Linked DNA regions of Homo sapiens. The protein of the gene in region 1 interacts with the protein of each later gene in a biochemical or structural test. Each region holds a gene or a part of one and is shown in the gene's direction. Other genes may lie near its edges.

What was found.
Region 2: the proteins of SCARB2 (region 1) and AP3S2 form a complex in vitro, tested with the Homo sapiens proteins (one study listed by BioGRID).
Region 3: the proteins of SCARB2 (region 1) and AP3S1 form a complex in vitro, tested with the Homo sapiens proteins (one study listed by BioGRID).

Annotation. Positions count from the first base shown.
Region 1 is NC_000004.12:76,201,482-76,212,488, reverse strand, and holds part of SCARB2 (lysosome membrane protein 2), read left to right. Parts: intron 1-11,007.
Region 2 is NC_000015.10:89,888,239-89,899,949, reverse strand, and holds the start of AP3S2 (AP-3 complex subunit sigma-2), read left to right. Parts: upstream 1-5,955; 5' UTR 5,956-6,000; coding exon 6,001-6,069; intron 6,070-10,809; coding exon 10,810-10,901; intron 10,902-11,317; coding exon 11,318-11,429; intron 11,430-11,711. Other genes in the region: ARPIN-AP3S2 (uncharacterized protein LOC100526783), read left to right, coding at 10,810-10,901, 11,318-11,429. UniProt on the Homo sapiens protein: Part of the AP-3 complex, an adaptor-related complex which is not clathrin-associated. The complex is associated with the Golgi region as well as more peripheral structures.
Region 3 is NC_000005.10:115,898,700-115,909,706, forward strand, and holds part of AP3S1 (AP-3 complex subunit sigma-1), read left to right. Parts: exon of another isoform or gene 1-90; intron 91-4,185; coding exon 4,186-4,293; intron 4,294-8,121; coding exon of another isoform or gene 8,122-8,157; exon of another isoform or gene 8,158-8,162; intron 8,163-11,007. UniProt on the Homo sapiens protein: Part of the AP-3 complex, an adaptor-related complex which is not clathrin-associated. The complex is associated with the Golgi region as well as more peripheral structures.

The DNA of each region.
Region 1 (11,007 bases):
AGGCCTAGTCTACTTTGAATCACTGCACTCTCCAGTCAGTAAAGCTATTTTATTCCAGGTGGCAATGGATATCTTCCTTTAACTGAGTTTCCAAAAGTAATTAAGTGAGTACCTGAAATCTGGCAGTTAAAGGCAGTTTTTCAAAAAGCACCATGGCAAAGCATAATGTAATTTTTAAAGTTCACATTGCCAAGGGAAGACAAGGCCCACTGTCTGAGCGTCTCGAGGGTCAGTTTCCTTTGAGCAATCATGTTCAAGGAAAAAAGAAACTGAATCCTTTCTCCACTCCTGTCCATGTCCAAATCCATGGTGAGCTGTGTTTGAGGATGTAAACTCTTGCTTTGGGTGACTAGAGTAAAGCAATCCAATTATAGTAAATATGTGAGTTTTCTTATATGGCCTTGAAAGGCTGTTTCAAGGAGCCCTATAGGATGAGTGATCTTCCCCGTGGTTCCCATATAGCCAGCCCTTAGATTCTCTGTGTGTCTCCATTTCTCTGGGTGAGGGGGTGGCTGTAAGGCAACTTGGCTGGGGCCTGAGTTTGTGTTGATATTTCCAAGTGTTTTTCTCCATGAGGAATGGACTCTGTTCTGATAAGTAATAGTACAGGGAAGTGGACTTTCAGAGCTGCTCAATCCCAGCTAAGGAGGACTGCACGGTGTATTGTATGAAACTAAAGGACAGGGCTAGTTTCAGTGGGCAGGTGTGGAAATACTGTTGTCATTAGAGGTAAGTCACACATCGCTATTCTGCTTTTTCCTGGATTACCTGTAGGGTGGTAGGTAGCATGGGACAGTGGGAAAGATTGAGGATGTTACACTCCTGGGCATGAAACCTAGCTTCCACTATGTCCCAGCTCGGTGACCGTGGGCTGTTTAATCTTACTTGATTCATGTTTTCCCCATCTGTAAATAGGGATAATAAGGACTAACGATCACATCTGCTTTGTCAAATAATTCTTATAACCTTAAGGTGTGATCTTTCTGGGATATAGTTAGTGCTTAATAGGTGATAGCAACTTTATTTTTATTAGAAGCCACACAAAGAAAATACGTGAGATTTGGAGTCAGATTCCATATGTTCAAATCCTATCCTTGCCAGTATAAGCTTTATGACTTACGTCAAATAACTTACTTGGTCCTCAATTTCATTGCTTGTAAAACTGGGGATATGAGCTGTTAGCTAACTTGGGCACAGTGATGCATTTACCATGAAACTCGCAAAGTTAAGCTTTGGGTCTCTCACTTGCACAGACCCTTGCGAAGCCCTGTACCTCATTCTATATCCCAAATTTTCTTTTTTCTTAAGAAGGACCCTTCAAATTGTATAAGCTTCAGGACCCACAAAACCTGGATTTGTCTCTGCATGTGTATTATTGTAGGACCAAGTATAAAGCACTTAGCATAGTATCAGGCACAGAATAGGTAATCAATATGTGGCAGTCATCTTTATTGCCACTAGTATTACTATGGGAGAATTCATTCATAACTTGATTCTAATGTAGTTATAATATAATCTACTCTGATATTTCCAGTTCTTTGTTTTTTCATTTGAAGATTGTCTATGCCCCGACTTGTCTATGTCAAAAAGGGAAGAGGGAAAAGGGATGAAATTCAAATGAGTAGGTGTGGGAAGCTTAGTAAGAGAATTCCTATCCAAAAAGTTGTCTCAAATGATAATTGTCCTTGAACCCTGCAGTGACCAGAGGTAACTGAAGAGAGACTTTTAATTTTGGCCAGTGAATATCGTGGAAGGAACCAAGACAATTTTGTTTCATTTTTGGCCTCAGTGGTGACTGCCTCGTATTGGGCAAGGCCTGTAATTGTTTCTGCTTCAATTTTCTCATTTGCAAGAGAGGCATAATAGTACTTCTCTTTTTCCCACACCCTCTTCCTAGGGGATATTGTGAGCATTAATAAGGCATTTCCTTACAAGCGTTTGGGCCTTCATGAAGAGAGAGCTTTGCAGAGACCCAGCAGTTCCTTTTCCTCCCTTAGGCCTGGAAAGGCAGGAGTTTACGTTACATTTCATCTGGTATCCCAGTGAACTGCCTTGACACCTAGCACAGTGCCTGAGATACATATTAAATGCCTCTTCACTCGCCTGTGATCATTTTAATAGAAAGAAGAGTGTCCTGAGAATCAGCAGAACTGAATCAAACATTTTTTTTCTGTCCCTAAGGATTTCTTGGACTAAGCTGAACAAGCACAGTGGCAAGTTATTTAATCCCTCAAATCCTAAGGATCCTCATTTTGAAAATAGGAACAATAAGGATAAGAATACTTAACTCAGAGTTGTCACAAGAATGAAATAATATGATATCTATAAAGCACCCAGCACAATGCCTCGCACAATGCCTGAACGTTAACAGTTGTTATGTCTTTAGCTATATTTGTCATCTGTGAATTGAAACTTATTATACAAGCTATGGTTCCTCTTAGCTCCAAACTTCTGAGATCCCATGACCTTTAAGAGCAGCTATGCAGTTCAGAATATTAAGTTTGCGCTCCTAATCTCTGCAGACGTGCTGGCAGGTTGACTGTCTCCCAGTAATAGGGATGCAGAACTGGCCACAGTCAGGGCTGGCCAACAAGGGATGGGATGGCAAGGGAACCAGTGGGAGACTGTTTACACCTTTGACTTCCTCTTCACAGGTCAAGGCAGGACTGTAGCATTAGGTCTCAGAGATGCAATGAACAGGACAAATACACTTCCCCTTCATCTGGACCTGAGGCTCTGGGCAAGTCAGTACCAGCTGGTTTCTTTTGGGAGCCATAGAAACTCTGGAGCTGTTCTACCGATTCCTCAAGAAGTAAAATATAGGCCAGGCGTGGTGGCTCACGCCTGTTATCCTAACACTTTGGGAGGCTGAATCGGGTGGATCACAAGGTCGGGAGTTCGAGACCAGCCTGGCCAATATGGTGAAACCCTGTCTCTACTAAAAATACAGAAATTAGCTAGGCATGGTGGCAGGTGCCTGTAGTCCCAGCTACTCGGGAGGCTGAGGCAGGAGAATCGCTTGAATCCGGGAGGCGGAGGTTGCAGTGAGCCAAGATGGCTCCCTTGAACTCCAGCCTGGGCGACAGAGCAAGACTCTGTCTCAAAAAAAATAAAAATAAAAATAAAAAAAGAAGTAAAATGTAATCACTGATAACCAGATTGCTTTGATTGGTGACTATGGGATCTTGTTTTTTAAAGTCAAATCAGCAAAACATCTTTATTGATGTGTATGTAAAGGCATTCAGCTATATATCATTTTAAAAGGCTCCTTCTTGCATATCTACCTCATCTCCTGAGTTGCCTCTATTCAAAGAAGACTTATCTTAGTCTGAGATTTTTCTTGATCAGAAAAAAACCTGTAAAGATATCTTAAATCTGTTATCTTACGGTCAAGGAAATTGAGGCTCTTGGAATAGAAGTGACTTATCTAAAGTCAAATGGAGAGGGAAGGAGAGAGCGTGCCAGCTAGCCTTCTGATCCTGAACCCACTTTTCCCATCTCAAGGATGACCATACATCCCATTTGCCTGGAATAGTCCTACATGGTTTCTGTGTACCTGTTGTGCTGGTGTAATCACTAACACCCCCTTTCCTCCAAAAGATTTCTGCTTTGGACAATAAATTCTATGGCCATCCCTCACCTCTCATGCTACATTGTCCTTACAGACCACAATGTATCCCGCTTCTTGGCTCTCTTAAGGAGTTGAGGCCTACTCAAACTAGCTCTGGCAAGAGAGGATTCTTTTTTTTGTTTCTGTAAATCTGGAAGGGGAAGCTCATAGAAATCAAAGGGCAAGAACCACGGCACAGTAAGGCCTCCTGAGAGGACAACCGAAAGTGGAAAGTCAGCAGGAAGCAGGCACACTCTGCCTCCCACTTTTTCCTCTGCTTTCTCCACCAACAGGCTTCCTCTGTTTACTCAGCCTGGCTCTGTACTCATCCGGGCTTGCTCAGCCCCGCCTCAGTGTGACTTTCCAGCTGTTGACCTCTCATAGACATGCTTCATCTCCTAGTTTCTCTTTTCCAAGTTTATAACGGAGCAATGTGATTGGCTCAGCACAGGAAGAAACTATAGCACTGTAAACGGAGGCAGTGTCGTTAATTTCCTTGCAAGATTCTCTAACTCCTAAGCAAAATTATCCAAATTCTTTCCTGGCTTTTAGAAACACGATCTTGTGATATCAAAATCATATTAAGTTTATTTTAGTGTCTTACTAATTCATGTTGACTATGAGTGCATTCCTTATTAATGATTAAGACAATATAGTAGGCTAACAGTTGTCAGCATAGCCCCTAGACTCTAGGAGATGCATCTAAATCACTTACAAAGATTTAGAAAATACCAGACCCCATCCCAGACTTGCTGAATCAGACTCATTAGGAACAGAACTCAGGTTAAAGTGCTTATCATAAAATCCATTACTGGAGGCAGGTTGCTGTGGGATCGTAATCTGCAATTTTGGGAATATGCATTTTTAAAAAAGGTGTTTATATTTGTATAGTGATTATTTTAGACCATGTCTTCATTCCTTAAGATGGTAATTCTGACTGAGGAGATTACTACTTATAATTACTATTAATCTGCAAGTTTACATTAAAGGAAATATTATTTGGTGAGGAGGGGAAGATTCCTGCCTGTGGAAACTACTTTGCTTTATTGTTAAATAAATCCAAGATTTCATTCTGTCAGGCCACAGCAGAGGGGCCATCTGTTCTGCCAGACATTTGCTTATTTCCCAGGAAGAATCAGGAGGTGGAATTATAAGCTCATTGATGAAAACATAGGATGTTGGCCAAGTTACTAGACATTCCTGGCCATATCATCAAGATATGCACTATCTATACACTATACACTAAGGAAGGGACCATTTTTAATCCAAGCTGGTAACTGGAAAAAACAACCAAGGAAAAATAAAGACCACTTTAGGTGTTTGCTTTCTATATCTAAATGCACTTTTGGGTACATGCTTTGGCAGTCATTCTTTCATTTGACAAATATTTACTGAGTGTGTACCATTTGCAAGGCAGTGTGCTAAGAGCTATGGATATAACACTAAACAAGAGGCAGTCTCTACCCTTGCAGATTTTATAATCCAATTTAAACTCCTGGGCCCCTCATATTCTTAAAAATTATTGAGGACCCCAAAGAACTTATGTTTCCATACCTATTGATAGTTACAATATTAGAAATTGAAACTGATATGTATTTTTGAGAAATGTTTAAAACAGAAGACTACACAAGCACATATTCCAATATGACATCATTATATATCACGTAACCTCTGGAAGACTCCACTCTACACTCAGAGAAATAATAGAATTAAAAACGCAAATGATACCTTAGTATTAAAATAGTTTTGACCTTGTGGGCGCCTCCTAAGAAGGTCTTCGGGCTCCCCAGGGGTCCTGAGATCACACTTTGAGAACTGTTGATCTAGTTTTCATTTAATTATTTTTTTAGAATATTTTTAAAAATACATAATATCCCTGTTTTATATTCCTGTAAGGCCAGTTTGGAAGCTATCTTGTTAATGTTTTCAAACAACCAGGATTTTGCTTGGTGTGTCTTTGATTTACTGTGTCCTTTTGGCTTTCCTGTGAGTCCAGTGTTAAAAATAGGAGTTTGGGCCATCAGTAATTCCAGTTCCACAATCTCTTGTCTTTCCCCGAGTGCTGATCAAAGTAGACAAGAGCATTCATATCTCCATAATTGAATTACTCAGTAATTCCCTTCTGGCCTCAGCCCTGCGGGGATTTTCAACCCATATGACGTAATTTGGTATTTTAATCTAGTATGAAAGCTCTCTTTGAAGGTAGATGTCCTGTCGTATTTAGTTTTGTGTCTTTTCTTACTGCCAAATGCAATGTCTTATTCAAAATAGATGGTCAGTAAGTGTTACTTGGATGAATAGAGAAAATAATTTCTTTGGAAATGATTTTGTTTGCATTTTGTTGTTTAGTCTCACATTTTGCCTCACTCTGTAGGCCAGTGGTCACATGTTTGTCTCATGAATGATTTATACCTTTAAAATCTGGAAACTTCACGTATTGGTCCAGATTTCCAGCTTCTCTTGAAACATGTGGATGTTCTTTGGTACTCGTCATACCAAGTTCTGTGTGGTAGCTGTCTCGGCAGAAAAGAGGCTGACCCTTAGAAGAGACCTGCCTTCCCTGTTTCCCACTGTCTTAGTCCATTCAGGCTGCTGTCACAAAATAGCATAGACTGGGTGGCTTATAAACAACAGAAATTTATTTCTTACAGTTCTGGAGGCTAGGAAGTCCAAGATCAAGGCCCCGGCAGATTTGGGGTATGGTGAGGGTCCACTGCCTCATAGATTATGGTCTTCTCACTCTAACCTCACATGGCAAATGAGCTCTCTGGGGTACCTTTTATGAGAACTAATCCCATTCGAGAGGGTTCTACGCTCGTGACCTAATCACCTCCAAAGGCCCCACCTCCTAATCTCACCACCTTGGGGGTAAGGATATCAACAAAGGAGTTTTGAGGGGACATAAACATTCAGACCACAGCACCCACCGTCCTTTGCGCCCTTATTGGCTCCCAAGGCCCAGTGAAGGTATCCGTTGTTGTGCATGTGCTGTTGTGTTTCTTAGAGTAGAGAAATGTTTCTCTATATCTGACACTCCTTACCAAAAGAAGGAAAATGAAAGATAGCTTGAGAGGATCATGTGTTTAACAGAAATGGGGGAGGGCATGTTTCTCTGTAGAAATGAATATTGCTGCTGGGGTTTGACATGCAAACAAATGTACAAACCCATGGCCTGTGTCACTCATTTGCCCTAGCCATCTGGCCCCTTCAGCATCTGAATTTTACACACTTTCCAGAGACAGTGTGAGGCAGAGTGCCATTGTTACACTAATGTAATCACTCATCACAAGTCCCATTTTTTAAAATTCATTTTTTAATTGACAAGTCAAAATTGTACATATTTAGGGCATGCAACATGATGTTTTGAGAGAGATATACATATAGATATACATAGTGAAATGGCTAAATCAAGCTGTTTAACATACACCTTACCTCAATTACTTATCTTTGTTTTGTGGTAAGAACACAAAATCTAATCTCAGCATTTTTCAAATATACAATATTTTGGGGTTTTATTTTATTTTATTTTTGTTTTTGTTTTTGTTTTTGTTTTGAGATAGGGCTTCTCTCTGTCACCCAGGCTGGAGTACAGTGCCACTACCATGGCTCACTGCAGCCTTGACCTCCTGGGTTCAAGCCATCCTCCTGCCTTAAACTCTAAAGTTGCTGGAACTACAGGTGTGCACCATGCCAGGCTAATTTTTAAATATTTTTTTGTAGAGATGGGGTCTTGCTGTGTTGCCCAGGCTGGTCTCAAATTCCTGAGCTTAAGCAATCCTCCCACCTTTGCCTCCTAAAGTGCTGGGATTACAGGCGTGAGCCACTGTGCCTGGCCCAATATATTGTTATCCACTGTGATCACCATGATGTACATTAGATCTCTTGAATTTGTTTATATCAAACTGAAATTTTGTGTCCTTTGACTAACATCTCACCAGTCCTCCCAGCGCCCACAATTCCCATTTTAAGGATATTTTCTTTTAACACTGTACTTCTGATAATCAACAGTAGTGGAAGAGGAGACATAGAAATAGGTAGGTAATGAAAATATTACTTATTTCAATTTTGAGAGATATAATCACAACCAAACAGGTTGCAAAATAATGAGACTGGCTGTGCAAGTTACACACAGAATGTGGGCCTTGTTTCCGTGGCCTTATTTCTTATTTATTCACATCTGAAACTCCTCTTTCTCACCCGCCTCCCCACTCCCCATATATGTATATATATATTCCCCTCCCGCTCCCAATTTTCACCTGGTTCTATGTTTAAGTTTCTATCGGTAGCTGCTTTTTTTCCCTTTAGGTCATCAGTTCTCAAACTTGGCTGTACATTTGTAATCACCTAGAAACTTTCAAAAATAAGTTAGTGGGTATTTTGTAGCAGGAGGTTTTTTGGGATTGTCATTCCACCATATTGTCCTGTATGTAATTTATAAACAAAGTACAGTTCACCCATGAGCTACATTTGAATCTGAACTATCAGAGCTCATTAGTTAAAATTATGACAGTTGCAAAATGAAAATGAGTTAAGCAACAGTGACATAAATAAATGAATGCCAATACATTTTTACTGAGTTAAAATAAGGTCAGGGAATAAGAGTAGAATGTTAATGGCAGTTTCTTTCTTTTATGTAAACAGTGGAAATTACTTAAATTACTGCATGAGTCTGGGTTGGGTTTGCTTCGTTTCAGGGAGCAATTTTAAAAAACAAAGCAAATCAATTGGTGTTTTGCCATTTGATGAGTTTTATTAATCTGGAGTCCAGTATACAATTAGGCCAATATACCATCCATACACAATTAGGGCAAGTTCTCCAAGTTGGTCTGCATTATCTCTGGATGAATTTAGACTGTGCAGATGGCAACATGGATGCTTAAGTTGTGTTTAATTATGAAGTAGCACTTTACTGACCTTAAAGAACAACCAGTAGTGCTCTCGAATCCCGAAACTTTCCTTAAAGGTATTACTGATTCCCGTGAAAGCCTAATGGATTCCCTGAGTGCTTATTTTTATCACTTGGAAGTGGCTTACATCAGGACAGCTGGTTTCACCACTCTCATGGTGTTGCCTTCCCAAAAGATTGCTGTTAGGCTGACTTGGGTTGTGGCTGTATTAAGTCATGTCAGTGTTCAGCAGTCAAGCTAATCCAGCCTGCATCTGTTCCTTCATCTGCAGGTCAGGTGTCAGCCTGGCCAGCGACTCCATGTTCACTACACACAGCTCAGAGAGGTTGTTCTCAGTTCTGTCTCTGACCAGCCTTCTGTGTACCCAAATGGAAGCTTATGCTGGTTGAAGATTCTTTTACTTTTGTTTTAAAACAGTCTCACTTCATACATGGTAAAAACTGTTATGCTTCTCCAGTAATTCAAGAAATGCAAGTTCAAACAAGAAGATGCTATTTTGCCACTACTGAGGAAGCAAAGATTTCTGAAAACCTTAAACACCAATATTGGGATGGATATGCTGAAATGGTTGCTCATACACTGCTTTCTGGAGCAACTTGTTGATATTTAAAGGCTGATGAGTTCATGAAAACTTTTTGTCTCTAGACCCAATAATCCCAATCTAGGAGTCTATTCTAAGAAATTATTCACTGATTTGGGCCAGGTGTGGTGCCTCATGCCTGTAGTCCCAGCACTTTGGGAGGCCGAGGTAGGTGGATCACTTGAGGCCAGGAGTTAGAGACCAGCCTGGCCCACATGGTTAAACCCCATCTCTACTAAAAATACAAAAAGTAGCTGGGTGTAGTGGTGTGCACCTGTAATCCCAGCTACTCCAGTGGCTGAGGCATGACAGTCAAAAGTTGCAGTGAGCCAAGATTGCACCACTGCATTCCAGCCTGAGTGACAAAAGCAAGACTCTGTCTCAAAAAAAGAAAACAAAATTATTCACTAATTTGGACAAATATATTCAAGAACATTTACTTCAGCATGAAAGCAACACAAATGTCCTATAGTAAAAGAATGATTAAATAAACTGATTTAGTATATTTTTTTAAATATACTAATACAGTGGATTAGTATACAGACATTAAAATAACAGTTTCAAAACCTATTTAATAACAAGGATAATCGTTTATAAAAGATGAGTCAAAAAATGATACAATACATATGATCTCAATTTTGTTTAAAATACACATATATATGACTAGACCAGAGGGAAATAAACCCATATGTTAACAGCGATAGTGTGGATTACAGGGGATTTAAATTTTGTTCCTTTTACTTTCTTCATTGTCCAAATTTTCTGTGACAAATATAATGGAATGGGTAGGGAATGGATGGAGTAGCATTTACCTGATTTAAAGTAACAACAGGCTGGGCACGGTGGCTCACACCTGTAATCTCAACACTTTGGGAGGCTGAGGTGGGCAGATCACCTGAGATCAGGAGTTCAAGATCAGCCTGACTAACATGGTGAAGCCCTTTCTCTACTAAAAATACAAAATTAGCCAGGTGTGGTCATGTGTGCCTGTAATCCCAGCTACTCGAGAGGCTGAGGCAGGAGAATCGCTTGAACCCGGGAGGCGGAGGTTGTGGTGAGCCGAGTCATGCCACTGCACTCCAGCCTGGGCAACAGAATGAGACTCCCTCTCAAAAAATAAATAAGTAACTGAATAAATAAAAAATAAAGTAACAACAATCAGTAGCATCATTTGTGAATAGAAATTGGAGGCAACACATGACTTTTTCTGCACATTTGTAGTAATGTTATCTGCTACTTTAAACATCTCTTCTAATATGAATATAGAAATTTCTGTAGATTGATAATTTATCATAATATCTAGGTATTTTTCCCTTAGATAAATGTGATGTTTTATTGCTTACAAGTCTAGTTTGTTCCTTGTTATATCAAGGAGTTTTTAGAATTCACCAATAAAATGAGAAGGTAGGAGATCTTGTCTACCATTATATCTCCAATACCTAGAACAGTGGCTTAGCACAAAGGAATTGCTAAGTTAATATTTGTGGAAAGAATGAAAGAGTTTCATCAGTTTTAAGGTTGTGAAAATCCTATGCTATACTTGCTATGAAAAAGGATGTTATAAAAAATTCATTAAAACCAAAATTGCTAAAGACAGATCTAACAGACTTAGAACTAATGTTTGTGTGCCTTTGGCATATTAATTATGCATAAAAATAGACCCTGCTAATTCCAAACTAGTCTTAACCATTTATGAAAGGAGGCCAAAATGTCTCCTTGAAAAATAATATTTGCAGCTAAGAAAGTTACTGTCTCTTCTTGATTCTGCAGTACTGAAATTCAGACTTTTTATTTATTCAGATCACCTTTCTTACATATTATTTAGAATATGCGGCATTTTGCCACATTGAAGATTTTACCAAGAAGAACTGGGTAAACAGCAGAAGATGAATGCCTGGCACAGCGTTGTG
Region 2 (11,711 bases), on another chromosome or scaffold:
AGGGCGGGGTGTCTTGGATGGGCTTCAGGAAGGGAAAGACCATTGTGTCTGGAGCTCAGAGAATGGGGGCTGGTGTTTGAGATGAGGCTGGAGATTGGGCATGGCATCCTCACGCATGTTAAGGAATTGGGGACTTTATCCTTAACATCCTGGAAGCCAGTGATCCCATGGAGAGTGAGAAGATCTGATCTGTGTTTCAAAGGTCACTTGACTGCCGAGCAGCTGGAGGCGAGTTGCTCCTTTAGGAGACTGCTGCAGTTGCCTGGGTGAGAGGCTAGAGGGGTCTGGTCTATAGCAGTGGCAGGGGAGATGGAAAGAAGAGAATGATTTGAGGGGCATTCGGGGGGCAAAATCAACAGGACCTGGGGGGAGACGAAGGGATCAAGAATGATGCCCAGATTCTGGGTGAGTGGCAGTGCTGTGGTGCACAAGTAGTGATGTTATGTTTCCGGGTGACCTGCTGTTTAGCAGGAGCCCAGCCTGTGGCTAAGAAGTATAGAGAACTGAAACTAGCTCCCTAGGGATGGGAAAACCAAGTGGGCTGAGGATAAGAACAGGGCCCCAGGGCTGGGTGCAGTCGCTCACGCCTGTAATCTTAGCACTTTGGGAGGCCGAGGTGGGCGGATCACTTGAGGTCAGGAGTTCGAAACCAGCCTGATCAACACAGTGAAACCCCGTCTCTACCAAAAAATACAAAAATTACCCGGACATGGTGGCACATGCCTGTAGTTCCAGCGCCTTGGGAGGCTGAGGCATGAGAATTTCTTGAACCCGGGAGGTGGAGGTTGCAGTGAGCTGAGATTGCCACTGCACTCCAGCCTGGGCAACACAGTGAGACCCTGTCTCAAAAAAAAAAAAAAAAAAAAGAATAGGGTCCCAGGCTCAGCAGGTAGGGACACTGAGGTAAAATCCTATTCCCTAGGACTAGGGACTAGGAAGGGAGAAAATAGGAAGCTGCTGTGGCATAGGCATCTGCATGGGCAGATGGTGAGGCCAAAGCCCCTGATTTTGCCATACCTCCTGCCCTGGTCAGGACTGGTTCAGGCATTAGGGCAGGCCCAGCCAGGGCAGAAGCCTTCCTAGATACACCTGTGGGGAGTTGAGGAACTACAGCAGGGCTGAAACCCTGCTTTCAGGGGCCCCCATGTGGCTGGTAGGGGCAGCTTTTGGAAGCTAGACTGGATCCTATTACTCCCCAGATGAAAAGTTCAAATTCCTTAATACAACTCAGAGCTCATCACAATGTCACAACCCTCCTTTCTCGGCTCGCTTCCTCCTTAAGAGCTCTGGGGCGATTCTTTCAGACCAGCCTGAGGGATCTTCCACAGGTTGTTAATAGGGCTAGAAACAAAAAGTGGTGGTGTTTCTATGATCTAATTTGTTGGAACAAACGTAGTGTTAAACTCAAACATTTCTGTAGGATTTCTTGGAGCTTTAACTATACTAACATTTACTGTAACTCTTCAGGACAGGGTATGATTACGTATTTCCCACATTTCTTTGGTCAGAGAACCCGTTTTTGTGAGGAGCATTTCATGGGACAGCTGTTGTGAGAAACAGTTTGGGAAGGGCTGTGTTGGTCCCATGGAGGGGCTGGCTGTTCCCAGAGCAGGTCACTCCCCCACTTGCATTGCCTTGCCTGGACTCTTTTCTTGGAGGGAGGTCCCTTTCCTCTACCCATCTGAATTTTTTTTTCTTCCACCAGTGTCCAGCTTGCCTTTCACCATGGGCCTAATGATGGAAATTACAGTTATTTTGTATCTTCAAACAGAACCAAGCAAATCCTCTGAGCTTCATTCATATGGGAAATTTTCTTTCTTTCTTTTTTTTTTTTTTGAGATGGAATTTCGCTCTTGTTGCCCAGGCTGGAGTGCAATGGCTCAATCTCGGCTCACTGCAACCTCCACCTCCCAGGTTCAAGAGTTTCTCCTGCCTCAGCAGGAGGATTACTGTAATCCCAAGTAGCTGGGATTACAGGCCTGCGCCACCACGACTAGCTAATTTTGTACTTTTAGTAGAGATGCGATTTCACCATGTTGGCTAGGCTGGTCTCGAACTCCTGACCTCAGGTGATCCACCCTCCTCAGCCTCCCAAAGTGCTGGGATTACAGGCATGAGCCACAGTGCCGGACATTATGGGAAAATTTTTTGAGGGACTAAACTAATCTCCACAAATAGCAATGCATTTAGGAAATATATTTAAAGGGGAAAAAAAGACTCATAGTTTCACTCAGTCATGTTCATAATTTTTAGTATTTGGGTTTTTTAGCATGTAATTTGTGTACATAGTTTTGGTTTTTGTAAACTTGCATAGGGGTTTTCTGGTACAAACTGGAAAACCTGCTAGACAAATTCTGAAACATCTGTAATGCTTGTAGGTAGTTGTTGTAACACTATGCCCACACATAATCACTTTCCATATTGCTGCATAGTCTTTGTAACCATTTTTCTTCTTCTTTTTTTTGAGATGGAGTTTTGCTCTTGTTGCCCAGGCTGGAGTGCAATGGCGCGATCTTGGCCCACTGCAACCTCTGCCTCCCGGGTTCAAGCTATTCTGCTGCCTTAGCCTCCCGAGTAGCTGGGATTACAGGCACACGCCACCACGCCCGGCTAGTTTTTGTATTTTTAGTAGAGACGGGGTTTCACCATGTCAGCCAGGCTTTTCTTGAACTTCTGATCTCAAGTGATCCTCACTCCTCAGCCTCCCAAATTGCTGGGATTACAGGCGTGAGCCACCACGCCCACCTGTAACCATTATTTTTAAGATTGCTACCATTGGATAGTTCTGTCATGGTCCAACTTTTGGATATTTAAAATTGATCCCTGTGTGGCTAACAGAATTAATGTTTCCAAAAATGTTGAAAATTATATAGTTCTCTTAATTCCCCACCTCTAACTATATTTTTGGGTTATTTCTTTAGGAACAGATGCCCAGGAGTCATATTACTGAGAATCTAGAAATCTTTTGCAAAGTTCTTGTTATATTGCCAAATTGCTTCCCAAAAGGGTTGTTCTAAACCATAATTTCACCAGCAATGTAGGGGAGAACCATTTTTATGCTGCCCTTGTGAGAATTGGGTATGAAAACATTTTTAAAATGATTTTTGATGAGGTGAAAATAATATTTGAATATATTTTAATTTGCCTTTCCCCCACTTATAGTGAGCTTAAACATTTTTTCCTTTTCCTAGCTGTATTTCTCCCTTTGTTATTCGTTCTTTCGTCCATTTATCTACTGGGGAGATGGGGAGTGTTATCTTTTTAGTTTATCAGTTATTTGCATTTTAAATATAACCATTTGCCATATTTTAACAACGATTTTTCCATTAAATAATTCTTTTTATAAAAAAACTTTATATATCTGTTGATGTTTTGTGATTTTTATTGCTTCTAAGCTAATACAGATTTTTGGATCTTATTCAATTTCGCTTTCTTCTGTTTAGGTTATTATCTGGTTTTATACCTAACTACTTATTTTCAAATTGCTAACCAGTTATCCTAATAGTATTTACTGAATTCCTTCCCACTCCTACATCACATATTAAAATTATTTTATGCCTAAATTATTTATAATATTTCAGTTATTCTTCCTATAATTACAATTTGAACCATCAAAGTAGGTTTTCATAGTTGGCAGAGCTAGTTCTTCTTCATAATTCTGTTTCAGAATTTTCTTTGATATTCTTCCTCAACATTTTAAACATTTTGTCAAGTTTCAGTGCAACTGACTTTTGGTTTTTATTTATTTAAAAACTGGGCCATGCCGGGCGCAGTGGCTCACGCCTGTAATCCCAGCACTTCGGGAGACTGAGATGGGTGAATCACTTGAGGTCAGGAGTTTGAGACCAGACTGGCCAATGTGGTGAAACCCCATCTCTACTAAAAATACAAAAATTTGCTGGGCATGGTGGCATGTGCCTGTAATCCCAGCTACTGGGGAGGCTGAAGCAGGAGAATTGTTTGAACCCGGGAGACGGAGGTTGCAGTGAGCCAAGATTGTGCCACTGCACTCCAGCCTGGGCAACAGAGTGAGACTCCATCTCAAACAAACAAACAAACAAACAAACAAAAAACTGGACTAGGCGTGGTGGCGGTTTGGGAGACTGAGGCTGGAGGATTGCCTGAGGCCAGCAGTTTGAGGTTACAGTGAGGTATGACTGTGCCACTGCACTCCAACCTGGGTAAGACCCTATCTCTGAAAAACAAACAAGCAAACCCCAGAACTCTGGCTGCAAAAGTAGTACATATTTCTTTGAAGGAAAAAAAGGAAAACTTGATAATCCTACCACCCAAAGATGTTTTTAAATCACTTATGTGGTACTCAGTTATGTGCCATGCACTGTCCAAGTGCTTACAAATATTATACTAACTCCCTTTGTGTTTATAACAACTGTCTGAAGTCAGTAGACTCATTTTCCAGTTTTCCAGTTTAGGAAACTGATATTACACCTTTTCTACAGATGGGGAAACTTGCCCAGGGTGCCCAGGCAGTCCGCAGAACCATGCTTTGAATCAGGGCAGTGTGGTTCCAGGGTCCTGTACAGATCAAACACCCTGACTCTGCCATTCCATCAGATACATGATTCATATTTTGGTGTATTTGCCTCCAATCTTGAGCAAAGTGGGTTGTCCCTGTACATACTTTGTGTAATCTTTTAGCTTAACAGGTGTCATGAACACTTCCGTATCATAAATCTTTCCCAGCATGATTTTTATTATCTATTTAATATTTCTCATATTCAATGTAGAACAATGCACTTAACCAATTTCTCATTTTTGTAATAATTTTCTTCCCATTTTCCCCTGTAATAACACTGCTGAGATATATATTTTTTTCTTCTTTTTTTTACTGTTCTGAAGATACTCTGGCAGAAATGTATGTTCCTCAGGCTAAATCTTTTCACACATCCACAATCATTTTATCATAAATTCTAGAGCTGGAAACGCTGAGTCTAATGTTTTATATATATATATATATATGTTATATATCTGTCACCCAGGCTGGAGTGCAGTGTGGTGTGATCTCAGCTCACTGCAACCTCCGCCTCCCGGGTTCAAGCCATTCTCCTGCCTCAGTCTCCCAAGTATCTGGGACTACAGGCGCGCGCCACCACAACCGGCTAATTTTTGTAATTTTAGTAGAGGCGGGGTTTCACCTTGTTGGCCAGGCTGGTCTCGAACTGCTGACCTCAAGTGAGCCGCCCGCCTCGGCCTCCCAAAGTGCTGGGATTACAGGCGTGAGCCACCGCGCCCGGACTGTTATATATTTTAAAGGCTTCTGATCCATATCGCCAAACAGTCCTCTGGATCGATTTGCATCTGTATCCGCTGCTCCATCTGCAGTATACGGACATGCTCCACTTCACCCACACTGGGTCATTAAAAGAACAAACAAAAATAAGAACTTGATCGATTTGGGATTTTAAATGGAAATGCACTAAAAATTCCTTAATTCCACCATTCACCGTCTACCATAGAGGAACAGCCCATCTGCACGGAGAGACAGCTACGTAATTCACTGCAGCATTATAATACTGAAAAATTAAAATGAACGAAATGTTCCATAACCGACGAACGGCCGAATGACCGGCGTCTCCACTCCGCGGAACGTTCTGCGAGCGCTAAGGGGATGGCGGGAGTGCATGATTTGGAGCGGGCGGTGAGAAAAGCAAGCTCCCGCCGCCTCTCCGTTTTGGCAACCCGGCTGACGGTCGTTTCGGCTTCTGGGGCCAGCCGTCGGTCTGGGCGAGGGACATAGATCCGGATTCGCATCCTGACTGGCCAACCAACGCTGGCCGAGGTGACCACTCTCCTCGGCATCCGCACCTGCCCTCCAAGGCGTCAGAGAGGCCGGACCCTTGGGTGCTAGGGCTCGTGAGCGCCGGGGCCAAGTTTCCGAGTGCCGCTCTCAGCAGCGCACCAACCGGAAGTGATCGTGTTGTGGCGGAAGGAGGAGCTTTCTGGGAGTAGCCGGTGCTGAGAGAACCGTGGCTGGCAAAGATGATTCAGGCGATTCTGGTTTTCAACAACCATGGGAAGCCACGGCTAGTCCGCTTCTACCAGCGTTTCGTGAGTGCGGCCCGGCTTCACCACGCCCCTTCAGGGCGCCCACTATGTCTTCCCTCCTCTTTGGCCTCTCGGCGCCCGGGGGCACCGCTCTTTGGTCACCTGGGGCTCCTGCACCGAGCATGACCCTCGCCCTACTTAAGCATTTAATCTAGGCGCAGGCTGGTGCCAGGCCTTCTGTCTCCCGCCCTACTGCCCCGCTCTCGCTGACCCTTTTCTTGATCCTGGCATTTCTGTGCCATTTTGTGACATTTTCCCGTGGGTCTCTGGGAACGAGATAGAAGCGACAGTGGGGAGTGTGCCTCGATGAGAACTTGAGTGATTGAAGTCACATTCTGTCATCTTTTTGGTTGTTGACCACAGTTTCATGAGGAAGAAATATTAAGTTTCTGAAAGTTTTTGTTATAGCCAGAACTGGAAAAGTTCTTTTTTTTTTGGAATTATTTTGCTTCAGTGTTGGCTGGGACTTTCCAGAGACTAGATACCCTTCACTCTTAGGGTTGAAGAAAATCAGTTTAAAAGTGGAAAAATGATGAGAAATTATAAATGCTGCCGCATAAGGGCTCAATAAGTGATTACGTAAATTTGAATTTTCCCAACACGTTCCTTTGCAAACACATAAACATCAGTATTTGCTTCCTGTCTTCGAAGATTATATTTCTTCATGGCAGGGTTTCAAAATGTTACATAATTGGGGGACTGGTGGAACTGAAGAGGGGAAAGAGCCAGAAAACGTGTTCAGGCTTCAGCTCCACCTTTTCTACTCTTGCGTCTGTTGACAAGTTAATAAACCCTTTTCAGACTTTTATTGTCTTTTGTCAATTAGAAATGAAAAAATAATTTTACTCCTTCATAAGATTTTTAAAGCTAGATTACATTTTATTAAGTAGATTACATCGAGGTAAAAATATGAGTATTCAGGCCGGGCGCGGTGGCTCACGCCTGTAATCCCAGCACTTTGGGAGGCCGAGGCGGGCGGATCACGAGGTCAGGAGATGGAGACCATCCTGGCTAACACGGTGAAACCCCGTCTCTACTAAAAATACAAAAAATTAGCCAAGCGCGGTGGCGGGCACCTCCAAGTCCCAGCTACTCAGGAGGCTGAGGCAGGAGAATGGCGTGAGCCCGGGAGGCGGAGCTTGCAGTGAGCCAAGATAGCGCCACTGCACTCCAGCCTGGGCGAAAGAGCGAGACTCCATCACACACACACACAAAAAAGTATATATATATATGTATGTATATGAGTATTCAGCGTAACTATTTGTATTTGCATTTGTGTGTATGCAAATTTCCCCCCTAGTTTTTTTCTAACAGGGTTACTGAGATAAAACTAACATGCCATACTGTTTACTTATTTATTTTATGTTATTTACTTATAGAGACGGGGTCTTTCTATGTTGCCCAGGCTGGTCTTGAACTCCTGGGCTCAAGCAATCCACCGGACTCAGCCTCCCAAAGTGCTGGGATTACAGGCATGAGCCACTGTGTCCGGCCCCAGTTTACTTATTTAAAGGGGACAATTCAGTGTTTTTTAGCATGTTCACAGAAGCTGTGTAACCATCACCACAATCAATTTTAGATCATTTTCATCACCCCAAAAAGAAACCTCTGCCCATTAGCAGTCACTCCCTATTTCTCCATGACTCTCCCAGCCCCAGAGAGTTTCTTTCCCTCTAAATTTGCCAGTTCCAGAATGGCAAATGGAATTTGCCTATTCCGTTGCCTATAAATGGAATCATAAATAAGTGGTTTTTTGTGTGTCTGCCATGTTTCATGTAGTATAATGTTTTCAAGATTCATCCATGTTGTAGCATGTATCTGATGTTCTTCATTTCTTTTATTGCTGAATAATATTCCATTATATGGATATGCCATATTTTGATTGTCAATTTATAAGTTGATATTTCTGCTTTTTGGCTCTTCTAATTAATGCTGCTATGAACATTCTTGTGCAAGTTTTTATGTGGACTTATGACTTCATTTCTCTTGGTTATATACCTAGGAGTAGAATTGCTGGATCATATGGTAACTGTGGTGAACATTTTGAGAAACTGCAAACTATTTGACAAATTTTCCAAGTGGCTGCACCATTTTACATTTCCATCAGCAATGTATAATGATTCCAGTTTCTTCACATCCCTGCCATTCGTTATTTATTTATTTATTTTTGGTTAAAGACATTTTAGTGGGTGTAAAGTGGTATCTCACTGTGGCTTTTTTTTTTCCCTCCGAGACTGAATCTCACTCTATCTCCCAGGCTGCAGTGGCGTGATCTCGGTTCACTGTAACCTCTGCCTCCCGGGTTCAAGTGATTCTCCTGCCTCAGTCTCCTGAGTAGCTAGGATTACAGGTGCCCACGACCATGCCTGGCTAATTTTTGTATTTTTAGTAGAGATGGGGTTTCGCTGTGTTGGCCAGGCTGGTCTCGAACTCCTGACCACAAGTAATCTGCCCGTCTTGGCCTCCCAAAGTGCAGGGATTACAGGCGTGAGCCACCGCACCCAGCTCATTGTGGTTTTGATTTCAGTTTCCAAAATGACTAATGATGTTGAGCATCTTTTCATGTGCTTATTGCCCATTCGTGTATCTTTGGATCATAGGATTTTTATAAGACCTCATGAGCTCATGGATGAAAGTACCTTGAAAACTACAGAGTACTAAAAAGATATGAGGGGTTATTAAAATCACTGAGGCATGTAAGCAATTGGTAGTTTACCTTTTTATTGAACTAGAAATTAGGTAGCCTCATCATTTCGTACCACTTCCCCACTGCTGCCACTTCCCCCAGAGTCAGATAAAAGGCTTTAGTTCAAAAGATGTCTTTGTCAGTTTTAAAAAGTGCTGATGCTTAGCATGTTTTGTATTTTGCATATATAGAGTTCGTCTCCTACAGCATCCTGTCATCTGTGAGCTTTGTTTGTTCTTTAAATGGAAATGAGGAAAATAGTGATTAATTTACTCAAATTTGTAGTGACCAATGATTAGCAAGTTTTCATTCAGTCAGTAAATACTGTGAGCCATTCCATACCCATGTGAGTCAAAGTAATTTCCCCACAATTACGTTTTCCCTTTTTTCCCCTCTCTGTTTCTTTTAAATAACCATTTCAAAGCTAAATTCAGGGCTATAGAAAGAAAGGGATTAAAATTACTTGAACCTATTTTCTAACTCTTGGGGCAAGTCCAATTTGAAGGTTTTCTTATGATTCGTTACTCAAAGTGTGGTCCCCAGACCAGCAGAAATGTTATTGCCTGGGTGCTTACTAGACTTGCATCTCAGGACTTAACCTATACCTGCTAAATCCGAATCTGTATTTTAACAGCATTCACAGCTGATTCATTGCAAATGAAGATTTGAGAAGCAATGCTCTAGAGCTTTAAGTTATTATCTGTCTTAATTGCTGGTTTCTCCCTCTCTTACCCTTTTAACCATACTTCTTCTGAAACTCATATGTATAATTAGAAATCAAAGGTGAGTTATCAAAGTGATTTCATCAGAGTTGAGCTTTCTTATGCACGTAGTAAGTGAAAAAATAAGGCCAGACATGGTGGCTCACACCTGTAATCCCAGCACTTTGGGAGGCCAAAGCAGGTGGATCACTTGAGGTCAGGAGTTCAAGACCAGCCTGACCAACATGGTGAAACCCCATCTCTACTATAAATACAAAAATTAGCCGGGCATGGTGGCACATACCTGTAATCTCAGCCACTGGGGAGGCTGAGGCAGGAGAATCGCTTGAACCCGGAGGTGGAGGTTGCAATGAGCTGTGATCACACCACTGCCTGGGCAACAGAACAAGACTCTGTCTAAAAATAATAATAATACATTTTATTTGTAACTGTTCAAAATTTTAATCTGTAATCTATTTTTCTCAATAATACTTTGTTGGTGAGTAACACAGCATCTTATATGTAGTATCTATATTACCAGTACAAAAGATGGCAGCTGTATTTGCCAATATAACTTTTTAAAACATTTACATGATTACTTCTTGACCTTTTTTTTTTTTTTTTTTTTTTTTTGAGATGGAGTCTCACTCTGTCGCCCATGCTGGAGTGCAGTGGCGTGATCTCGGCTCACTGTAACCTCCGCTTCCTGGGTTCAAGCAGTTCTCCTGCCTCAGCCTCCCGAGTAGCTGGGATTACAGGCATGCGCCACCACGCCCAGCTAATTGTTTTTTTGTTTTATTTTGTTTTGTTTTTTTTTGTATTTTTAGTAGAGATGGGGTTTCACCATATTGGTCAGGCTGGTCTCGAACTCCTGACCTTGTGATCTGCCTCCTAAAGTGCTGGAATTTCAGGCGTGAGCCACTGTGCCTGGCCCACATCTTGACCTTCTTAAAATGTTAGACCTGTTGAGATTTATTATATCTTTGTCATAGATGTTTTCCAGGGGAAGACAAAATATTTCAGGATCAGGCCTTCCAGTTATTCTCTGACTTTGTATGAGAGTTTATCAATGTTCCTTTTCTTGTTTAAATATCAGCTTACCTATAGGACAGTAATGGTTAGTGACTTAGATATTTAGGTAAATATACCCTATCTTAATTCCTGTATCAGAGCATTGTCACCCATCTTTCATAGATTCACTCCTATTTTTTCTCATCATTTTTATCATTTCTAGAAACAAGTACTAAATGTTTAGATGTTCCCAGCTTAGAAACACTTCTTCCCTTGTCCATCCCCATGGATGGGATGTAGTTTTTCAGGCTTGCCCACTGATTCACTTATCTTTTTGTTTCATAGCCAGAAGAAATTCAACAGCAGATTGTTCGAGAGACTTTCCATCTAGTCCTCAAGCGGGATGACAACATCTGTAACTTCTTGGAGGGTGGAAGGTAAACTGTCAGCTTCATTTTTCTCCCCATATATCCACTTGTGAGTGGCCTTCATTATTGCATCTTCTGACAGTACTCAAGTGTCAGGTGGGTACTTGATGCAACTTTAGCTGGTCTCACCATGATCTGCTCAGGGAGAGACACAATTCTCTTTGGGGCGCAGTTCAATTATTGTGCTTCTGATATTGCTCATTTAGATGATTGATCCCCGGGAGGATAGGCAGGAGAAGAGGTGAGGTAAGGTGGCTTTAGGTACCTCTGCCAAACTTGGTTGCCATTCACCTAGTAAGAATGGCCTGCTTCTAGCGTTTGGCCTTCTCCTTTCCAGTGGGTCCTTTCTCATTCTTTGGCACAAGGTTTCTTTTTGATGTGTTTAATTAAGCTGTGGGCATTTAAATGTTTCCCATCTTCTGCAGTTTGATTGGTGGCTCTGACTACAAACTGATCTACCGGCACTATGCTACCCTCTACTTTGTATTTTGTGTGGATTCCTCAGAGAGTGAACTTGGAATCTTGGACCTCATCCAGGTATGTGTAGTCAGCTAATGATGGCAGCAGCTTTAGAGAGTTTCCACGGGATTTTTGAGTAACCAGCCTGTAGAACCTTGTGTCCATCTCCTTATTGATACTAGTAAAAGTTGCCAGATGTCCACCAGATGGTGCTCTGGGAGAGCTCCTGAGAAACCCTCAGCACTTTTAGATTTATTGGTTTCTATCTAGCCCTTGCACTGCCCTTGGTTTTCATTTACAAATTTATACTTTGGCCGGGTGTGGTGGCCCACAGTCTGCTTACAGATTGTCTTTATTACC
Region 3 (11,007 bases), on another chromosome or scaffold:
CAGAAGAGGAATGGGGACTAGTAGAACTTGAAGGCTGTGAGCAGACACACATCAAAAATGGAGTCAGACCCTTTATCACATACAGCTAAGGTATGCTGTGGTTATTACCCCTAAAATCCTAAAATATGAATCATTCAGTTTGTTTCTTACTTACACTATATGTTTATTGTGGATTTGCTGGGGGAGCTGCTGAGTTATCTGCCCATTTCCTGTATAGTGTGGCTCCAATTGGGTGGCCCCGTGTTGTTGCCCATATTGGAAGAAAGCATCAAAATCCAGGGCAAAATGAGAGAGCTAAAGATTCTGTGCAGGGCTTGGTTTGGAGGATGTATGACTTTGAGAATGACAGCTGTTAATATACTCTATTCTCCTCTCTGCATTCCCCCACTTGCCTCCACAAGTGATTAGGGTAGAGATCTGATCGGAGGCCTGTGTCTTTCATACCCTTGAGGCTGAGAGAATAAAGACTTAAGAGCAGAGTGCTTTCTTCCAACCTGGTCCCTCTTGAGGATTTGGACAGCCTGGTCTTTAACCACAGGCACAGAACGAGAGACTCCTTTTACTTTCACCAAATAAAGGAGCTACTAGCCATTAATAACATCTTGGAAGCCAGCCCTGAGCACAGTAAGCCAATAGAAAGAAAGCACTGCCATCTGAACAAGAGAGATTAACAGATTGAACAATCAGAAATTACGCTCCATGGAAAAGAACTACTGGAGAAGATAGAGTAACACTTGAAATTTTATAATTTTAAAATTTATTTATTTTGGTATGGCTGGGGTCTTGCTGTGTTGCCCAGGCTGGTCTTGAACTCCTGACCTCAAGTGATCCTCCTGCCTTGGCCTCCCAAAGCATTGAGATTACAGGTGTGAGCCACCACCTGGCCTCACTTGAAATTTTAAAATGATTTTAAAAGTACTTAAGATTTGGAAAAGTCTTCTTGGGCTTGAAAAGAGTTTTTCAGACTGAAAACTTTTAAAGAAGGTGATCACAATTGAGGCTTGAATTAAAGGTAGAAGATCAAGTGTAGGAAATAATCCCAAAGCATAAGACTGAAAGATAGAAAACATGAAGAAGAAGAAAAGAGACTTTGAAGGATACATTTAACATCTATTATACAAGTACTTGGAGGATCTTATCCAATTGAGAGAAAGAAGAATGAGGAATAATTAAAGTATTTTAGTAGGAAAACAAGGTCTCTCAGTGGTCTAGAAAACTTGATATTTGTTTTATAAATAATAATAAAGTCATTTAAGAGGGAGAGATATATATTAATGGGAAGTATAAGCACAGTAGAGTTTCATATTTAAAAGGAAGAGAATAGTGTAATAAAATTAGATCAAACTTAAAATATTGGGAGAAAAGAGAAAGTATAATTAAAGGTAGAAATAATATTCAATACACTAAAAGTGCACAGAATGAAATAATTTACTGAAGACAAAGATGGGCTTAAATAAAAGGCACAGTTTATATAGGAAAGGCCAGATAAATTCTAGAGTATTTTTCTTTATAGTTACCAATTTTCATAACTGGTTGCTTTTCTAATATCCACCAAAAAAGATCATTTAAGTTTTTTAGTATCCTATGGCATAAAATTTTTAATATATTTGATTTGTTTTAATCAGTTGCAGACATTATTTTCTATTATGTTCAAGTTGCCCATCTTTGGCCAGTGGGAACCCCTTCAGATTATCTTTGCTAGTTCATTTGACCTGACCTACCCCGTCATAGGCTTTGGTAGCTGTCTTGTGTTGTGGTCCAGCTAGATGTTCTAAACTCATTTTATTCATTTCCTGTTCCAGACATGTTGTCAACCATTCTTTTCTAGGAGCCCTGATTCCTTTTTGTTGGCGATGGTATATAGTAACTACAGTCTAGAGGTGCTCATGATTATGAAGTTGCTCATTGTTTTATGGCCTTTTCAATGAACAGAGCATCTTACGTATTTTCTGCTCCAGCCCTCAAGTCAGCCATTTCTCCAAGGAACCCTGGCTTCCTTCAGTAGAGAATGATGTTTAGAAATGACGATTTGGGCACTGTGTTTGCTCATTGTTACTGGGGTGACATGACTCCTGGTTCTTAGTGAACTGAGCTGGGAAATAGATGTATGTATACACGCACAGCTGTTTCTGGATCTTGATATGATATTAAAAATCATTGACCACTTCTTAATACCTCAGAATCTAGTACAATACTACAGAATTTCTTCTGGCTTTCTCGTTTTCCATATTTGCAGCTTGCTTCTCTGACAGAGATCAGTGAGAGATCTCATTATAAAAATATGTGTCTAATAATTAATGTTGATTCACTGTTTTAAATTTTTATATTTTTGTTTGTTTGCTCTTACCAACACAGTTTCATTTATCACTGTCATATGTATATCAGGCACCAGTCTCTTTTATGGTTTTCCTAACTTAATTTCTCATTCTTTCCTTCCTCTAACTTTCAATTCTTTATTTTCTTGCAGAACTGCGAAAATTAATGTATATAATATGTTCTCATTTGTGTAAATTAGATATGCATATACACACGTATAACAAGTATGTGCACAGCAAGTTTTCTAGGATACCTAAGATATAGCTAGCTGAGTAGCTTTGGATAAAGGGACCTAAAAACGGATGCAGAGTGTGGTAGAGACTATTGTTGTTCATACATAAGTTTCTGTATGAACTTTTAGTCATTTGCCTATATTCTTTTTTTTTTTTTTTTTTTTTAAGTTACGGTAGTTTTCAAAACACTGTCATGTCTGGTTTGGTTTGGTTGGCTAGGAAGATTAATTTATATAAATTTGTCTTCAGAATTTGTGCATGAGGTGTCCATGCTTCCAAAATGAAAAATAGTAAATAATGATGACTTTTTTTTTTTTTTTAATTGAGGCAGGGTCTCACTCTGTTGCCCATGCTAGAGTGCAGTAGTGTGATTTCAGCTCACTGCACCCTCCACTTCCCGGGCTCAGGCAGTCCTCCTGGGTCAGCCTCCCGAGTAGCTGGAAGTACAGACGTGAGGCACTATGCCTGGCTAATTGTCTGCATTTTTTGTAAAGGCAGGGTTTTGCCATATTGCCAGTGATCTGTCCACCTTGTCCTCCCAAAGTGTTGGGATTACAGGTGTGAGCCACCATACCCAGCCTCCAGGGATATTTTTTAAATTATGAATAAATTTGCGTGAAATCTTACAAAGAAATTTAAATTGAGTAATACATATTTAACTCCTAAAAAGAGTTTGTTGAAAAAAAAATTACCGTATAATACCTAGTGGTTCTATGCTAAGCACTTACATAAATTATTTATTTAATTGTTATGGTAATCCTATGAGGTGCCTATATTATTTCTGTCTCTATTTCGTAAATAAGGTAACAGACTCAGAGAGCTGAAGTAACTGCTCAAGGGCTACAAGTAATAAGTGGTAGAGTCTGTATTCATACTTATCTAATTTTGGAGTCTCCATTTCTAACCTTACCACATTATTTTAAAAAAATTATAGCAGAATAGATTCTTCTGTGAAATGTAATTCAGTTCTGAATTGTTGATTTTTTGATCCAATAATACCTTATGAAAAGACAGAAGTTATATTTTTACTCCCCAATGGAAGACATCATTTTTAGTCATTGTAAGATGTATTTATTAGAAGAAATCTGAATATTACATGTGTAGAGGATTTGGGGGTAAAAACACTATTAAAGTACCCACAATTTAAAAAATTCTACCTTTTTCCAATCTAGAGCCTGTTAGAAGTACTGTACTACATTGCTTCATTAAGTACCATGAGTGTAAAATAATAACCTAATTATTGTTGGCTAAGAATCTGGCATAAAAGGCTCTTATAAATCATATTTTAGTATTAAACTTCACATAATAATAATAATAATGGTAGTTAATATTTACTAGTCATTTACTTTGTTTTGAGTACTGCATTGGATTACCTTGCTTATTCCTTTCAACAGTCCTATGAAGGTAGTACTATTGTTTTTGTTTTATAGCCCATTAAGCTCAGACTTAAGGAGGTTATATAACTGCCTAGGGCTTCACAGTAGTGATGAAAGTGGATTATGAGCCCTTACTCCAAGTTGTTTTTACCACTCATACTTTTAACATAGACAAAGTGGTATTTGAAACAAAAAGTGAATCATGAAACTTCTTTTTAGTGAATTTTCTTTATGGGTATATATTCTTTTATTCCCTTTAGGTTCACAATATTCTTGCAGAAATGGTGATGGGGGGAATGGTATTGGAGACAAATATGAATGAGATTGTTACACAAATTGATGCACAAAATAAGCTGGAAAAATCTGAGGTAAGAATGGAAAATGCTGTAGTTAAGAAGGTTCTAAGCATGATGACAGATTACGCATGATTTGTAGTTTTCACTGTTTGTCCTTCAGTATCACCCTTTAGGTTCAGCCGTTATGCTTATTCAGTTTTTAAAAAATGGAATATACACGTAGTATGCTAAAGGTTCTGTGACTGTTCTCTACCCAACAGCTTTGTGTATTCTTCTTTTAGCCACAGTCATAGCTGCCTTGGGTAATAAGCACAATTCCAAATCTTATTGCCTAAAAGAATTATCTGAATAATGGAATCTAATATTTGCTTTGTAAAACTTCAGTCGGTAATTATCAAGGAAATCTTAGAACTAATATTTTAAAGATATATAAATTTTGTGTTACAAAACTACTTCTGGAAAGGGAAAGGACAGGAAATGGAATTCTTACAGGGAAGTAAGTAATGTTTCAAGTTATTAATAAATGCAAAATAAATATTTTGAATGTTTGAGTTCACATTCAAAAAAGAAATTCAATACCTTAATCTTTTAATTCTAAATCTTTCCCTAAGATTTCACTGACAAGTTAGTTAAGTCACATATTTTAGACATTAGTACATATATATCCATGGTCTTTATTGCATTCTATAAGATCGGTTTGTTATACTTAGCTAACTTTCTGCTGTTAGATTCAACCTTAGATGGGATAAATGAGGAACAGCCAGCACTTTAGCATTGTATAAAACCCTACTTCAGAATTGTAGTGACTCTTCCCTCAAGCACTAGTCTGAATATCAGTAGCAGGTGCTGTAGCTGAGCCACCTGGGTTCACATTATTTTGGTTGTTTATTACCCTAGCAGAGGTTTAGAAAGATCAGTAGTTTTATCATTTGAGTTCAGGAGTTCGAGACTAGCCTGGCCAACATGGTGAAACCCCATCTCTACTAAAAAAATAAAAATAAAAAATAAATAAATTAGCTGGGCACGTAGAGCGCACCTGTAATCCCAGCTACTCGGGAGGCTGAGGCACAAGAATCACTTGAACCCCGGAGGTGGAGGTTGCAGTGAGCCGAGATCACATCACTGCACTCCTGGGCAACAGAGTAAAACTTCATCTCAAAAAAAAAAAGAAAGATCAATAATTTTGATATCTCATTCACCACCCAACTTGTTTGAGGATACTCTTACATTTGGTATTTGCAGTCATAACTCAGATTGGAAAAAACAGACTTTATTTTTATAATTATTAGTGTTAAGCTCAGATGTTTCGTTGATTTAAAGTAAATATTACTTTGAAAGCATCAAGGTTTTAAAAATACACTGGCATTAATTTACAACAGGTGAGTTCTGAAAAATTTTACCTTGTTGGCATTTTAAAGGATCAGTTTAACTCAATTCAATTCTGTGTCCATTTTAATTGAAGAAAACACAGGGTGAAGAATAAATCTCAAATCTAGAAACAGTTGAAGCTTATAAAACATTTTCCAGTGTTCTCTTTTAAATTTAAAATAGTCTTGCATTTTTCTTTATCTCAATTTCCCATTCCTGTTGGTTTCCCAAAGGAGAAGTTTATAGTGGTGATTTAGAGCTAAGATTATCTTAACTAACTATATGTTTTGTTTGTCCTATAGCCAATTTTTAAAATATTGGCTTTTGAAAGTGGAAAACATAAATTAGGTTAATAGAGAAAATTTTGTTTTAGGACAAGGAAAAAGACTCATAATTTAATTTAGTATAACTGACTTGCAATATATTATTTAGTAAAGAAAAGATTATTATAAACCCTGAGCTATTGCTTTTAAAGTCTTAAAAGAACTTAAAATGTGTGTCATTTGTTAAACATTGCTTTGCAAAACTGTATGGTTATAGATTTTAAATGCCAAGGGACAAACAGTGATGCAATCCTTTAATAACTGGTATAAATGAATGAGTATCTAGTAATTTGTGAATTCTGCATAATCATCTGTAAAAAATATTGACCAGTTGTCTGGAATTTTCACCTTTCTAGGTAGTTAACTCCTTTTCATTGGTGGTGGTCCTTCTTTTTCTTCTGCTACTTAAGACATTTATGCCTGGTGTTCCATTATTGGAATGCTAAGCTTGTGGGAGTTATTTATATCCTACTGCTCAAGGTCATCCCCAAGGTCTGATTTTTCACAAAAAAAAGTTTGCAACCTCCGGCATAAATGGGTTAATGTGCTATATTGACAAAAGTTATGAAGGACCTATAATTATTGCATAATGGGTATTTGCTTTTTGATTGTTGAATAAAACTTCGTTAATGAGGCAATTTTTCTTATCTATAAAGAGCAGTAAAATGCGTAATTTACATTTCAATGGAAATAGTTATAAGAATACTATAACTTAAAATCTATTCACAGAAATAATGCTATTTAAAATAGTTTAGAATACTGGTGATTACTTCTATTATTCATTCCCTGATCATCTCGCATCATACATAATTGTTATCTGGTACCAAATTAGTTTCTCTTCTTTTGTCTTTTACAAGAAAGTATGTTTTAAGTCTGATTGGGGATAAACTACAAAATTATATATTTTCTATACATGTAACGTCTGCTAATATTTTAGTTATGAAATCGGATTTCAAGTCAAAGTGAGGCCATTTAGCCCTGATCATCTTTTTAAAACAGCACTGAAAATTATGATGACTAATTTTTCGTAGCTTTTGTATATTTTAAGTATGTTTGAAAGGCTTCTAGCTTTATTCCAGCTAGAATGTCAAAAGCTTTCATATGTTTCATGTCCATGTTACTTCAATTGGTTAAATTTACCAGAGATATTACTCTGCAGAATAATCCAAAATTACTTGAAACAAAGTATAAACTTTTCCTAATCTTCTTACTAAATTTCAGTTAAAATGTATTATATAAGGACAAACTTAATGACTTGTTTGGCTGGGCGCAGTGGCTCACGCCTGTAATCCCAGCACTTTGGGATCACTCAGGTGATCTGCTCACCTGAGGTCAGGAGTTTGAGACCAGCCTGGCAAATATGGTGAAATCCCGTCTCTACTAAAAATACAAAAAAATTATCCAGGCATGGTGGCACTTGCCTGTAATCCTAGTTGCTCTGGAGCCTGACGCGCAAGAATCGCCCGATTCCGGGAGGCGGAGGTTGCAGTGAGCTGATATTGCACCACTGCACTCCAGCCTGCGTGACAGAGTAAGACTCCGTCTCAAAAACAAACACACAAAAAAAGACTTGTTTAAAATCGAGAATGTCATGATTGATGAAAAGAACTGGTTATCAATATTTTTAAAAATTATTTAAGTAATATCTTAGGAACATCATTTATATTTAAAAATCAGTCTGGGTATAATTGAGACACAGCTTTTTAAACATAACATGCATTTATCTAGGGGCCTTTGTCAGAAATCAGAGCTTTTATTATGTTGGTCTAAAGTTAGTACATTTCTGGTAATGGAAAAAAGTGAACCAGTTTAATTCCCAATACCTAGACAGGTGGAAGCAAAGCTCTGCCAGATCCTGAAAGAGAGAAGCAAAGATATACTCTGAATGTATTTCCATCTATTCTATTTTGATAGAAAAATGGTTTACTATAACATTGGAATATTGGGAGAGGAGGGTTTAAGCTGGGAGGTTGATGGGATTCGGGGGAAGTATAAGAGGCACTCAGGAACCTGCCTAAGAATAAAAGGACTCCCTGGGGGTGGAGGTAGAGGGGTGGGGTTGGGGAGATCTGTTAGCTTTTATGTATTTCATGTTATTCTTAAGATGGATAAATGGGTCTGAATTTAGTCACTACTTTTTGAAAGTCAGTCCTCTTTTTTTTCCGAACATCCTGATCTTTCTAGCTCTTTCCATTCTTCTCTCTTACAGACCTTTATCTTTCAGTCTCCCAGACAGGACAGGTAGACAAGGTATTGCTGACTTTGAGAAATATGTACTATAACAAAGGGAAAGCAAAATGATGTCAAAGGCAATTAATTATTTAGGCCAGACTCAAAAATTCTTTGTGTTAATAAACCCATATAGTCCCTGTAGCCTATTTTCCATTCTAGTTTCTCCTTGTAGTTTCTTCATCTTTTATTGGACTTAGTGTATTTTACTAGTATATCATTGATGTCATGTTTGTTCTGTTTTGTCTGCCTGCATTGTAAAAGGAAAGTTTAAATTTTTTTTAAACACTTGTCATCTAACTGACAAATTGCATTTGCAGAAGTGACAATTTACTTTGTATATAAAAACGTAAAATTTATTTTGAGCATCATATAGCAGAACCAATCTTAATTTAACTCTCACAGATTTGTTTTTTTTCCATCTCTAAATTAGGATTCTAACATAAAATTGCCTGCTGGGTTTTGGAAGCTGTGAATTTAAAAACCAAAAGCTGAACCTTCAGAGTTTTGCATACAAAATGGGAAGCAGTGAAGGCTTAGAATAGTGACTGTTAAATAGTACTTTTTCCCCTCAAATGGTTTTCAGTTCCAAAGTCTTAACAGAATTGCTTTTACAGTTTTGACCTGCAGGTGCATATTAACAGTGGCCAACAGAAAATAAGATCAGAAATCTTATAAAACTTGACTGTATTTCAAACTAGAATGCTCGAAAAATGGAATTACCAAATTACCAAATCACCAAAATACAATGGGTTTTCATTGTAGCAAACCTTCTGACATCCAAACATGTCATAATCAGAATCAATAAAAATATATTAATGTTTTAGTATTGAATTAAAAACCCTGAATATTTTTGCAAAGCGTATTGGCAAATATTGGAAATATTTTTAATAGACCTCTAGTTTTACAAAACTAATTTTTCTTCTGATATTTCCTGTACGTTTTTTCACACCATAAATTAACTGTGTGAATTACTTTTTTAAAAGTTCCATGTACGTGGTGATGAGCAACTATTTTGTGTGAAACCATGTAAGCAAAAGAAATGTTTATAAGGTCTCTGATTGAAAATTTCAAAATAAAAGTAATTTATTGAGTCCTATGGAGGAAAAAATGTATAAACTTACGAAGTTAGATTATGCACTTACTAATTAGAAAAACATCACTGAGAATTGATGATTGTGGTGATATCACAAAGCATTGCCTTTTAGCCACTAAATTTTTACTTACTCTCTCGATGTGTTTGAGAAGAAGTAGCAACATACAGGTGGCTTTATAGTATCTTATTTTGAGATTGTGGGCTATGTCACAAAACTGGGGTACCGTTTTTGGTCCCTCTATCCATGTTATTTTGTCCCTCATATAGAGAATACATAGTAGTCTCATTCTCACCATTGGTCAGAATTATTGCCAGTTTCTGTGTTACAGTATGTAATTTATTACTGCTATTTTCCAGCAAAGAACCATTAATCACTTGGGTCTGTTAACTTTATTGCTAGAACTGTTAATTGGCCTTTTTTAAAAAAAATCAAGTTTCTGTTTTCAAAGAGGAGAGAATAAGAAAAGTGGCTCTAAGGTACTGATGGTGGAAGGTCAGCTCATGAGCTGGTTCTGCCTCTCTACCTTGACATACACATTTGTCTTGTACTTCTACAAAATTATGGTGAGAACCCTTGAGGTCACTTGTAATGGTCAAAACTAGTAATGATAAATCCATGAAAGTCATTAGTCTGCTCTCTTTTTTTCATGCAGGCAAATCCTATGTTTGAAATTAAAGCTATAATTGAAGATAATCCGTACAAAATGACTAATAATTTGGAAGGTTTTTTAAATTTTTGAGCACTCTAATTTTGTTAAAACTGTGAAACACCATAGTTATTGCTGTCTAGAGAATTGTCATGAGCTTATCTAAATGTTTATAATTGCAGTATTAAAGCACTGCCATTAAAACAAAGCCTATTATATATCCCCAGATTAAAAGTTATTCTACCTCGTGTTGAGGGATTTTTTAAACTATTGACATTTTCTTTTTTGCTCAAAAACATGCTTTCAAAATCTGCCATTATTTTGTTAATGATTTTGAGTCTGAAACCATTTAATATTGTGTTTATTAATGTTGGTGTTCTTTCACTTTGCTGTTAGGTCAAAATTATGAATGTGCATATAGCAACTTCCAGCAGGAAGGGTGGGTAAAGGTTTTAATACGTACAGTTTGTTCCAACTACCATCTTATTATGCTGTATTCAAACTTGAAAAAAAAAAAGATATTTTAAGATGGTAGGATGGTATTTTATGTCTTAGATGAAATAAATAACAAGATTACTCTATTACTTTCCTTTTCCCTTCAAGAAAGTTGATTGTTTATTGCATGAGGAAAAGGGAGCTTTCAGGGTCTTCGAAATACATTTTAGTAATGCTGCTTTTTCAGTTTTGCTTGCACATATTTTGTTTATTTTTGGGTCTGGCAATTTAAAAACAAAATCAAAAACAAATCATATCCATCCATTACTATCTTTGTGATTCAAGTGCTTGAAATTTCCAAGAGTATGTCTGTATAAGTCTTTATCTGTTTGGCCTCATTTTGGTATACTTGCAGACTTCATTTTGTTTTCTTTCTCTTAATTCTGTTAATTTATTTAATCTCATGGGAGAGAAAACATGATCATTCTTTTATATACTGTACTTCATTCTTTCATCCAGTTCATATTCTTAACTGCTTTGGATTCATATATTTGTTTTTATTGGTGTAGTCGCTGCAGTTTTACCTGCCATGGTGGTGCTCAGGTATAACATAGATGGAAACAAGTTATTTCTCCAGTAGAATTTCATTCTTTTTATTTCTGCTGTGTGTCAACTATATAATCTTAAA